Linked DNA regions of Homo sapiens: region 1 is linked to region 2. Evidence: fine-mapped expression QTL. A gene starts in region 2. The other region holds a variant in brackets. All regions are shown on one strand. Distances are from middle to middle.

The links. PIP is the estimated chance that this variant, and not a neighbour inherited with it, causes the effect.
Region 1: its variant is the best candidate, but not a certain one, in a credible set for the expression of TRAPPC6B in whole blood (INTERVAL, PIP 0.88).

Annotation. Positions count from the first base shown.
Region 1 is chr14:39,204,195-39,208,581 of GRCh38, reverse strand. It overlaps the pseudogene LOC100313942. Among named protein-coding and RNA genes, the nearest start is that of MIA2, 28 kb to the left of the region's middle. RefSeq lists enhancers at 3,552-4,319, 3,641-4,387, 4,320-4,387. The variant C/T (reference allele first, on the strand shown) is at 2,519.
Region 2 is chr14:39,167,580-39,171,966 of GRCh38, reverse strand. TRAPPC6B (trafficking protein particle complex subunit 6B) reads left to right here and starts at 1,634. Exons shown (of 6, transcript NM_001079537.2): 1 at 1,634-1,952. The coding sequence starts at 1,872. RefSeq lists enhancers at 407-996, 1,778-1,827, 1,587-2,176.

The sequences.
Region 1 (4,387 bases), 37 kb before region 2:
GTGGGTATGTCATAGATGGCTTCTATTACATTAAGGTATGCCCCTTGTATGCTGATTTTGCTGAGGGTTTTAATCATAAAGCGATGCTGGATTTTGTCAAATGCTTTTTCTGCGTGTATTGAGATGATCATGTGATTTGTTTTTAATTATGTTTATGTGATGTATCACATTTATTGACTTGCATATGTTAAACCATCCCTGCATCCCTGGTATGAAACTAACTTGATTATAGTGAATTATCTTTTTTATGCGCTGTTGGATTCTGTTAGCTAGTATTTTGTTAAGGATTTTAACATCTATGTTCATCAAGGTTATCAGTCTGTAGTTTTCTTTTTTGGTTTTGTCCTTTCCTGATTTTGGTATTAGGGTGATGCTGGCTTCATAGAATGAATTAGGGAAGGTTCCTTCTTTCTCTATCTTGTGGAATAGTGTCAAAAGGATTGGTACCAATTCTTTGAATGTCCGGTAGAATTCTGCTGTAAATCCATCTGGTCCTGTACTTTTTCTTTGTTGGTAATTATTAAATTAACATTTCAATCTTGCTGCTTGTTATTGGTCTGTTCAGGACATCTAATTCTTCCTGATTTAAGCTAGGAGGGTTGTACTTTTCCAGGAATTTATCCATCTCTTCTAGGTTTTCTAGTTTACGTGCATAAAGGTGTTCATAGTAGCTTTGAATGCTCTTTTGTATTTTAGTGGTGTCTGTTGAAATATCTGCTGTTTCATTTCTTAATGAGGTTATTTGGTGGATTTTCTCTCCTCTTTTCTTGGTTAAGCTTGTTAATGCTCTATCAATTTTATTTATCTTTTCAAATAACCAGCTTTTTGTTTCATTTAGCTTTTGTAATTTTTTTGTTTCAATTTCATTTAGTTCTGCTCTGATCTTGATCATTTCCTTTCTTCTGCTGGGTTTGGGTTTGGTTTGTTCTTGTTTCTCTAGTTTCTTGAGGTATGACCTTAGAATGTCAGTTTGTGCTTGTTCAGTCTTTTTGATGTAAGCTTTTAGGCTATGAACTTTCCTCTTAGCACTGCCTTTGCTGTATCCCAGAGGTTTTGATAGGTTGTATCATTATTGTCGTTTAGTTTGAAGAATTTTTAAATTTCCATCTTGATTTCATTTTTGACCCAGTGCTCATTCACGAGCAGGTTATTTAATTTCCATGTATTTGCATGGTTTTGAAGGTTCCTTTTAGAGATGATTTCCAGTTCTATTTCACTGTGGTCTGAAAGAGTACTTGATATAATTTCAATTTCTTAAATTTATTGAGACTCATTTTGTGGCCTATCATATGGCCTATCTTGGAGAAAGTTCCATGCGCTGTTGAATAGAACGTGTATTCTGTGATTGTTGGATGAAATGTTCTGTATATATCTGTTAAGTCCATTTGTTCCAAGGTATAGTTTAAATCCATTGTTTCTTTGTTGACTTTCTGTCTTGACCTGTCTAGTGCTGTCAGTGGAGTACTGAAGTCCCCCACTATTATTGTGTTGCTGTCTATCTCATTTCTTAGGTCTATTAATAATTGTTTTATAAATTTGGGAGCTCCAATGTTAGGTGCATATATGTTTAGGATTGTGATATTTTCCTGTTGGACAAGGCCTTTTACCATTATATAATGTCCCTCTTTGTCTCTTTTAACTGCTGTTGCTTTAAAGTTTGTTTTATCTGATATAAGAATAGCTACCTCTGCTTGCTTTGGGCGTCCACTTGCAAGAAATCTCTTTTTCCATCCCTTTACTCTAAGTTTATGTGAGTCCTTATGTGTTAGGTGAGTCTACTAAAGGCAGCAGATAGTTGGTTGGTGAGTTCTCATCCATTCTGCAGTTCTGTATCTTTTAAGTGGAGCATTTAGGCCATTTACATTCAATGTTAATATTGAAATGTGAGGTACCATTGCATTCATTGTGCTATTTGTTGCCTGTGTACCTTGGGTTTTTTGGTTTTGGTTTTTGCTTTTTAACTTGTATTTTTGTTTTATAGGTCCTGTGTGATTTATGCTTTAAAGAGGTTCTGTTTTGATGTGTTTCCAGGATTTAAGATTTTTTTTTTTTGAGACAGAGTTTCAATCTGTCTCCCAGACTGGAGTGCAATGGCACAATCTTGGCTCACTGCAACTTCTGCCTCCCAGGTTCAGGTGGTTCTCCTGCCTCAGCCTCCCAAGTAGCTGGGATTACAGGGGCCCACCACCACGCCTAGCTAATTTTTGTATTTTTAGTAGAGATGTGGTTTCACCATGTTGCCCAGGCTAGTCTTGAACTCCTGACCTCAGGTGATCCACCCGCCTCGGCCTCCCAAAGTCCCAGGATTACAGGCATGAGCCACTGCCCCCAGCCTGTTTTAAGATATAGAGCTCCTTTTAGCAGTTCTTGTAATGGTGGCTTGGTAGGGGTGAATTCTCTCAGTATTTGTTTGTATGAAATAGACTGTATCCTTCTATCATATGCAATGCTTAGTTTTGCTAGTTACAAAATGCTTGGCTGATAATTGTTTTGTTTGAGGAGGCTGAAGATAGGGCCC[C/T]ACACCCTTCTAGTTTGTAGGGTTTCTGCTGAGAAATCTGCTGTGAATCTGATAGGTTTTCCTTTATAGGTGCTTCTGTATCACAGCTTTTAAGATTCTTTCCTTCATCTTAACTCTAGATAACCTGATGACAACCTGATGACAATGTGCCTAGGTGATGACCTTTTTGTGATGAATTTCTTAGGTGTTCTTTGTGCTTCTTGTTTTTGGATGTCTAGGTCTCTAGCAAGTTTGGGGAACTTTTCCTCAATTATTCCCCCAAATATGTTTTCCAAGCTTTTAGAATTCTCTTTTTCAGGAACACTGATTATTCCTTTTTTTTTCTTTTTCTTTTTTTTTTTTTTGAGACAGAGTCTCACTCTGTTGCCCAGGCTGGTGTGCAGTGGCACAATCTCAGCTCACTGCAACCTCTGCCTCCTGGGTTCAAGCGATCCTCCTACCTTAGCCTCCTGAGTAGCGGGGACTACAGGCACATGCCACCATGCCCGGCTAATTTTTTGTACTTTTAGTAGAGACAGGGTTTCACCATGTTGGCCAGGCTAGTCTCAAAACACCAATTATTCTTAGGTTTGGTAATTTAACACAATCCCAGGCTTCTTGGAGGCTTTGTTCATATTTTCTTTCTTTCTTTTTTTTTTAGATGGAGTCTCGCTCTGTCGCCAGGCTGGAGTGCAATGGCACCATCTCGGCTCACTGCAACCTCCGACACCCTTGTTCAAACGATTCTCCTGCCTCAGCCTCCTGAGTAGCTGGGATTACAGGCAGGCACCACCACACTCAGCTAATTTTTGTGTCTTTAGTAGAGATGGGGTTTCACCCTGTTGGCAAGGCTGGTCTCAATCTCCTGACCTCGTGATCCGCCCGCCTCAGCCTCCCAAAGTGCTGGCATTACAGGCGTGAGCCACCCTGCCCAGACTCATATTTTCTTATTCTTTTTTCTTTGTCTTTGTTAGACCTTGTCTTCGAGCTCTGAATTTCTTTCTTCTACTTGTTCAATTCTACTGCTGAGACTTTCCAGAGCATTTTGCATTTCTATAAGTGTGTCCAGTGTTTCCTGAAGTTTTGATTGTTTTTTCTTTATGCTATCTATTTTCCTGAATATTTCTCTCTTCACTTCTTGTATTGTTTTTTGGATTTCTTTGTGCTGGGCTTCACCATTCTCTGGTGCCTCCCTGATTAGCTTAATAACTAACCTCCTGTATTCTTTTTCAGGTAAATCGGGGATCTCTTCTTGGTTTGGTTCTACTGCTGGTGAGCTACTGTGATTATTTGGGGGGTGTTACAGAGCCTTTTTTTGTCATATTACCAGAGTTGGTTTTCTGGTTCCTTCTCATTTGGATAGGCTCTATCAGAGGGAGGGTCTAAGGCTGAAGGCTGTTGTTCAGATTCTTTTGTCCCTTGAGTCTTCCCTTTTCCTATGGATGTGGCTTCCTGTGAGCCAGACTGCAGTGATTGTTGTCTTTCTTCTGGATCGAGCCACCCAGCACGTCTACCCAGCTCTGGGCTGGTACTGGGAGTTGTCTGCACAGAGCCCTGTGATGTGAACTGTCTATGGATCTCTCAGACATGGATACCAGCACCTGTTCTGGTGGAGGTGGCAGGGGAGCGCAATGGGCTCTGTGAGGGTTCTTAGCTTTGGTGGTTTAAATGCTCTATTTTTGTGCTAGTTGGCCTCCTGCTGGGAGGTGATGCTTTCCAGAGAGCATCAACTATGGTAGTATGGAGAGGAACCAGTGGTGGGTGGGGCCCTTGAAGTCCCAAGATTATATGCCCTTTGTCTTCAGCTACCAGAGTGGATAAGGAAGGCCCATCAGGTGGGGGCAGGGCTAGGCATGTCTGAGCTCAGACTATCCTTGGGCGGGTCTTGCT
Region 2 (4,387 bases):
GAAAAATTAAGATTACCATGGCAAAATACTCTTCAAAATTACACAATTTAGTGTTTTCAAAGGCTTAAGTGGAGCTTTTATGCTGGATTTACGTGATGAATGGAATAAACTGATTCAAACATTAGAAGGGACATGCTTAAAAAAAAAACCTACCACAATTAAAATTTTGGAACATGATCTTAAATTCCTGTGAAAGGGCATGAAGAGTTTGTGTGTGTGTTTCGTTTTTTGAGACGAAGTCTTGCTCTGTCGCCCAGGCTGGAGTGCAGTGGCACAATTTCTGCTCGCTGCAACCTCTGCCTCCCAGGTTCAAGTGATTCTCCTGCCTCAGCCCCCCGAGTAGCTGGGATTACAGGCACCTGTCACCACGCCCGGCTAATTTTTGTATTTTTAGTGGAGACGGGTTTTCACCATGTTGGCCAGGCTGCTCTCAAAACTCATGACCTCGTGATCCCCCCCACCCCCCGTGCCTCGGCCTCCCAAAGTGCTGGATTTTACAGGCATGAGCCACCTTGCGGTATGTTAATTTGGGGGAAAACAACAGGGACAATTGGGGAAAAATTTTGTTTTGTGAATTACCAATGGAAGAACTAATCACAGGCTAAGCAACATGCTTACGGTTGAATTTGCCAAATTTAAGATGTACATACTATGATGTAGCATGTGTATTTATTTGCACATGCAGTGGGACAATTCCTACAGTTGTCTCACACTGCTGTAGATTATTAGCAACTCCATCCTGCAGTGACATCGCTTTTCTGAATTCTATAGCACTTTTCACCTAATCCTCTGATTAGTCTGTATTTTCCGGTTCAAGTGTATCTTGTTTTTCGTTTGCTCCACTTCCCTTGTCCCTTGCACCCCACTAACAGGAAAATTCCTGGTGGTCAAAATGGCTCTAATTCTTTTTGTATACCCGGGCTTAATTCAATAGGAATTGGGATAACTTTTCAATATTTAAAAAATTTGCACTGTGAAAACGTATATTTTAAACTCTTTCTACAACTTTTCATATTTGAAGAACATATGGCAGGAAGTGGATGCTTTTGATGAAGCCAAAAGAATTTTTTTAACTTCTATTGCTAATTAACAAGGAGGTGGCCGCGGGAGCTCTTTTTTTTTTTTTTTTTTTGAGACGGAGTTTCACTCTTGTTGCCCAGGCTGGAGTGCAGTGGCGCGATCTCAGCTCACCGCAACCTCCGCCTCCCGAGTTCAAGCGATTCTCCTGCCTCAGACTCCCGAGTAGCTGGGATTACAGGCATGCACCACCAGGCCCCGCTAATTTTGTACTTATAGTAGAGACGGGGTTTCTCAGGCTGGTTCGAACTTCCGACCTCATGTGATCCACCCGCCTCCGCCACCCAAAGTGCTGGGATTACAGGCGTGAGCCACCGCGCCCGGGCCAGGCGGGAGCTTTAGGTCTTATTTTATCTTGCTCTGCCCCCGACATCGTGGTGAGAGGGGAACCTTCCTCATATCTGGGCGCTGGCCTCTCCGGGCTTGGGAGAGAGGAACTCAGTGATCATAGAGCTGGCCGAATGCCGGGGTAGAGGGGACCGGAAGTTGTTTTTTTCGCCCCCGCCCAGCGGCCGGATCGCATCTCAGCTGGTTGGCTTTGGTTAGAGCTCCCGTCAGACTTTAGTTCGGCCCTAGGATTTGGTAGCCCCGAAGTGTGGGCTCTCTCCAGTACCAGACTCATTTCAGTACCAGCCTTTGGGAAGTCGTGTGAATACCTCGGTCTCTTAGCCACAGGGATAGAATGGCGGCCTGACGGAGCCGCGGCGCCGGCGAAGTCGCTGAGGCGCGAGCTGGAACCCCCAGACCAGCTCAAACGGGAGCCAAAACTCGAAGCTTGGAAGAATTAGCAGGAAATGGCGGATGAGGCGTTGTTTTTGCTTCTCCATAACGAGATGGTGTCTGGAGTGTACAAGTCCGCGGAGCAGGGGGAGGTGGTGAGTGCTGCCACACAACCTTGAGGTCCTTTTGCGGTGACACACCTTGTTTCCCCTCAGTGCTTTCCTTCAACCCCTGTCCCATCGCCACCCGACGCCTCCCGAGGTGTACACAAAATGGTCCACCTCCAGGTGTCCTAAACCCTAGAACCTGTCAGTTGTCTCCTTTGAACCGTCATCTTTCATCGTTTTCTCTTTCGTATCTTCTTCTATTTGATTCTCTTTTGTCTATTCCCGTACGTTTGTCTTGCACGCCACAGATTTTGGTACTTTTAGTGTTGTCCCTGCCATTATTTACGAGAGGGTTAACTGCAGAGCCTACTTAGTTTTGCTGGCACTTCCAGCACTTGAGCCATGCACTGGACAGACCTGTGCCAACCTGAGAAGCCTGTCCCTCCTTCCTCATTCCTAATGCTCAGTACAACTCCACACAACTTGAGACCTGAAGCCTAATGAAGGTTGAGTTTGCAAAGGAAAGTTTGCAGGCGTTAGGATAATTAGGGAACATAATTTAAATTAATTATTTCAGAAAGTATTTATTTAGTGCCCTTATGTCAGAGCGATTTCTAGGTGCCAGGGATATAGTAGTGAATGAAACAATGGCCCCATCCTTGTAGAGATTTTTTTTTAATCTAATTTAATCCGAAATGTGATAGTATGTAGCGGTTACTTCTAATATGTGGGAGTCCTTATTCAATCATTGTGGGCCTGTCACTGCTGACACTGCTAGATAAATTAAATAAAATAATACTCCTGCCTCACAGTATTTAGGGAATAGTGATTTAATGAATAGTTAACACTGAGTATTGGCTGGTAGAATCATGGAGTTGTAACGGATTTTAGAAATACTCCAAAGTCATGCTCAAGTCAGGAGCCCTTTCTTTAATGCTATTGATAAAAAATGAGTGGAGAGTGGGGATAGGAAATGTATCCTAGGCAAAGATAAAGTGGTAGAGGTATGAAAGAGTGGTGGATTTAAATACACTTAAGCATTTCTTTGGACTAGACTGAATAGAGAGTGAGAAGAATTGAGAGGTGAAGTTAGAAAGCTTTGTGTAATTAAAGAATTCGGATCTTTTCGAGGGAATATTTTTAAGGAAGGGAATGATGTGGACCATTTGCATTTTAGAAAAGTAATCCAGTGTTTGGGCTAGAGAGGGAAGATCCTTGTAGGGGGAAAATCCTTTATTACGGGAGTCACTGCAGGAGGAGATGAAGATCTGGATTAAGACAGGGATAGTGAGAAAAGGAGATAACAGATTTGAAAGTTAGAAAGTGGAATTCTGTAGGCCTTGTTTAAGGATGGGAGTGGGAGTTGAAAATTATCGTCAGGTTTTCAGCTTGAGCAGCTGGGTTGGATGGTGGTACTATTAATCAGAAAAGGAAATAAAGGAGAAGAAAAAAATAAGGAGGTAAGATAATGAGTTATTTCGGGGCAGGTTGAACTTTTGAGGTGCCTGTATGACATCCAAAAAAAGGTACTGCCAGTTTGCACAAGAAGGATAGGCAGGATACATTTGGAAGGTTATTGGAAATGAAGCGAATTCTATTCTTATTCAAATGACCCATCTATAATAGAGATTTTTTTCAAGTCACAAACTTCTGACTTTATTATTGACCTCAAGGTTTACTGTTTGTGCAAAGCTAGCCTTCCTTTTCCCTCTAGAACAGTTAACACACCCCTTTTACTTTTTTGTCATAACCCCCGATCCCCCCAAACCACTTGCGTATTCAGTTCTCTTCATTCTCCCCTCCCTTCTTACCTTTCCTCTTCTCTCTCTCTCTTTTTTTTTTTTTTTAGATGGAGTTTTGTTCTTGTCTCCCAGGCTGGAGTGCAGTGGTGTGATCTCAGCTCACTGCAGCCTCCGCCTCTTGGGTTCAAGCGATTCTCCTGCTTCAGCCTCCTGAGTATCTGGAATTACAGGTGCCGGCCACCATGCCTGACTAATTTTTTTGTATTTTTAGTAGAGACGGAGTTTCACCCTGTTGACCAGGCTGTTCTTGAACTTCTGACCTCAGGTGATCTGCCCGCCTTGGCCTCCCAAAGTGCTGGGATTACAAGCGTAAGCCACTGCGCCTGGCCCTTTTCTGACTCTTGTCTAGAATAATATTTTTTCTTCTTTTTAAAATATCTTTTTTTTTTCCCGTGGGTTAATCCTAAATAAAATGAACAGAGCTGTTCTACTCAGGCCTGATAATTTTAAGAGATGGACTAACATACAAGAGAAAGGAAGTTCATAGTTTTGAATCATTTAAGCTAAAAATAACTTTCTTTTTCTACTGCAGTGTATTTATGATGGGGGGGAAAATTGAAAGTACATAATAAGCAAAAATTATATAAATAACAGTTATGTGGTAGTCTTCATAATCAGAACCCATACTGAAATACGGGTATATAAGGGTTCACATTAGTGTCCATACTTTGAGTGTGCTTG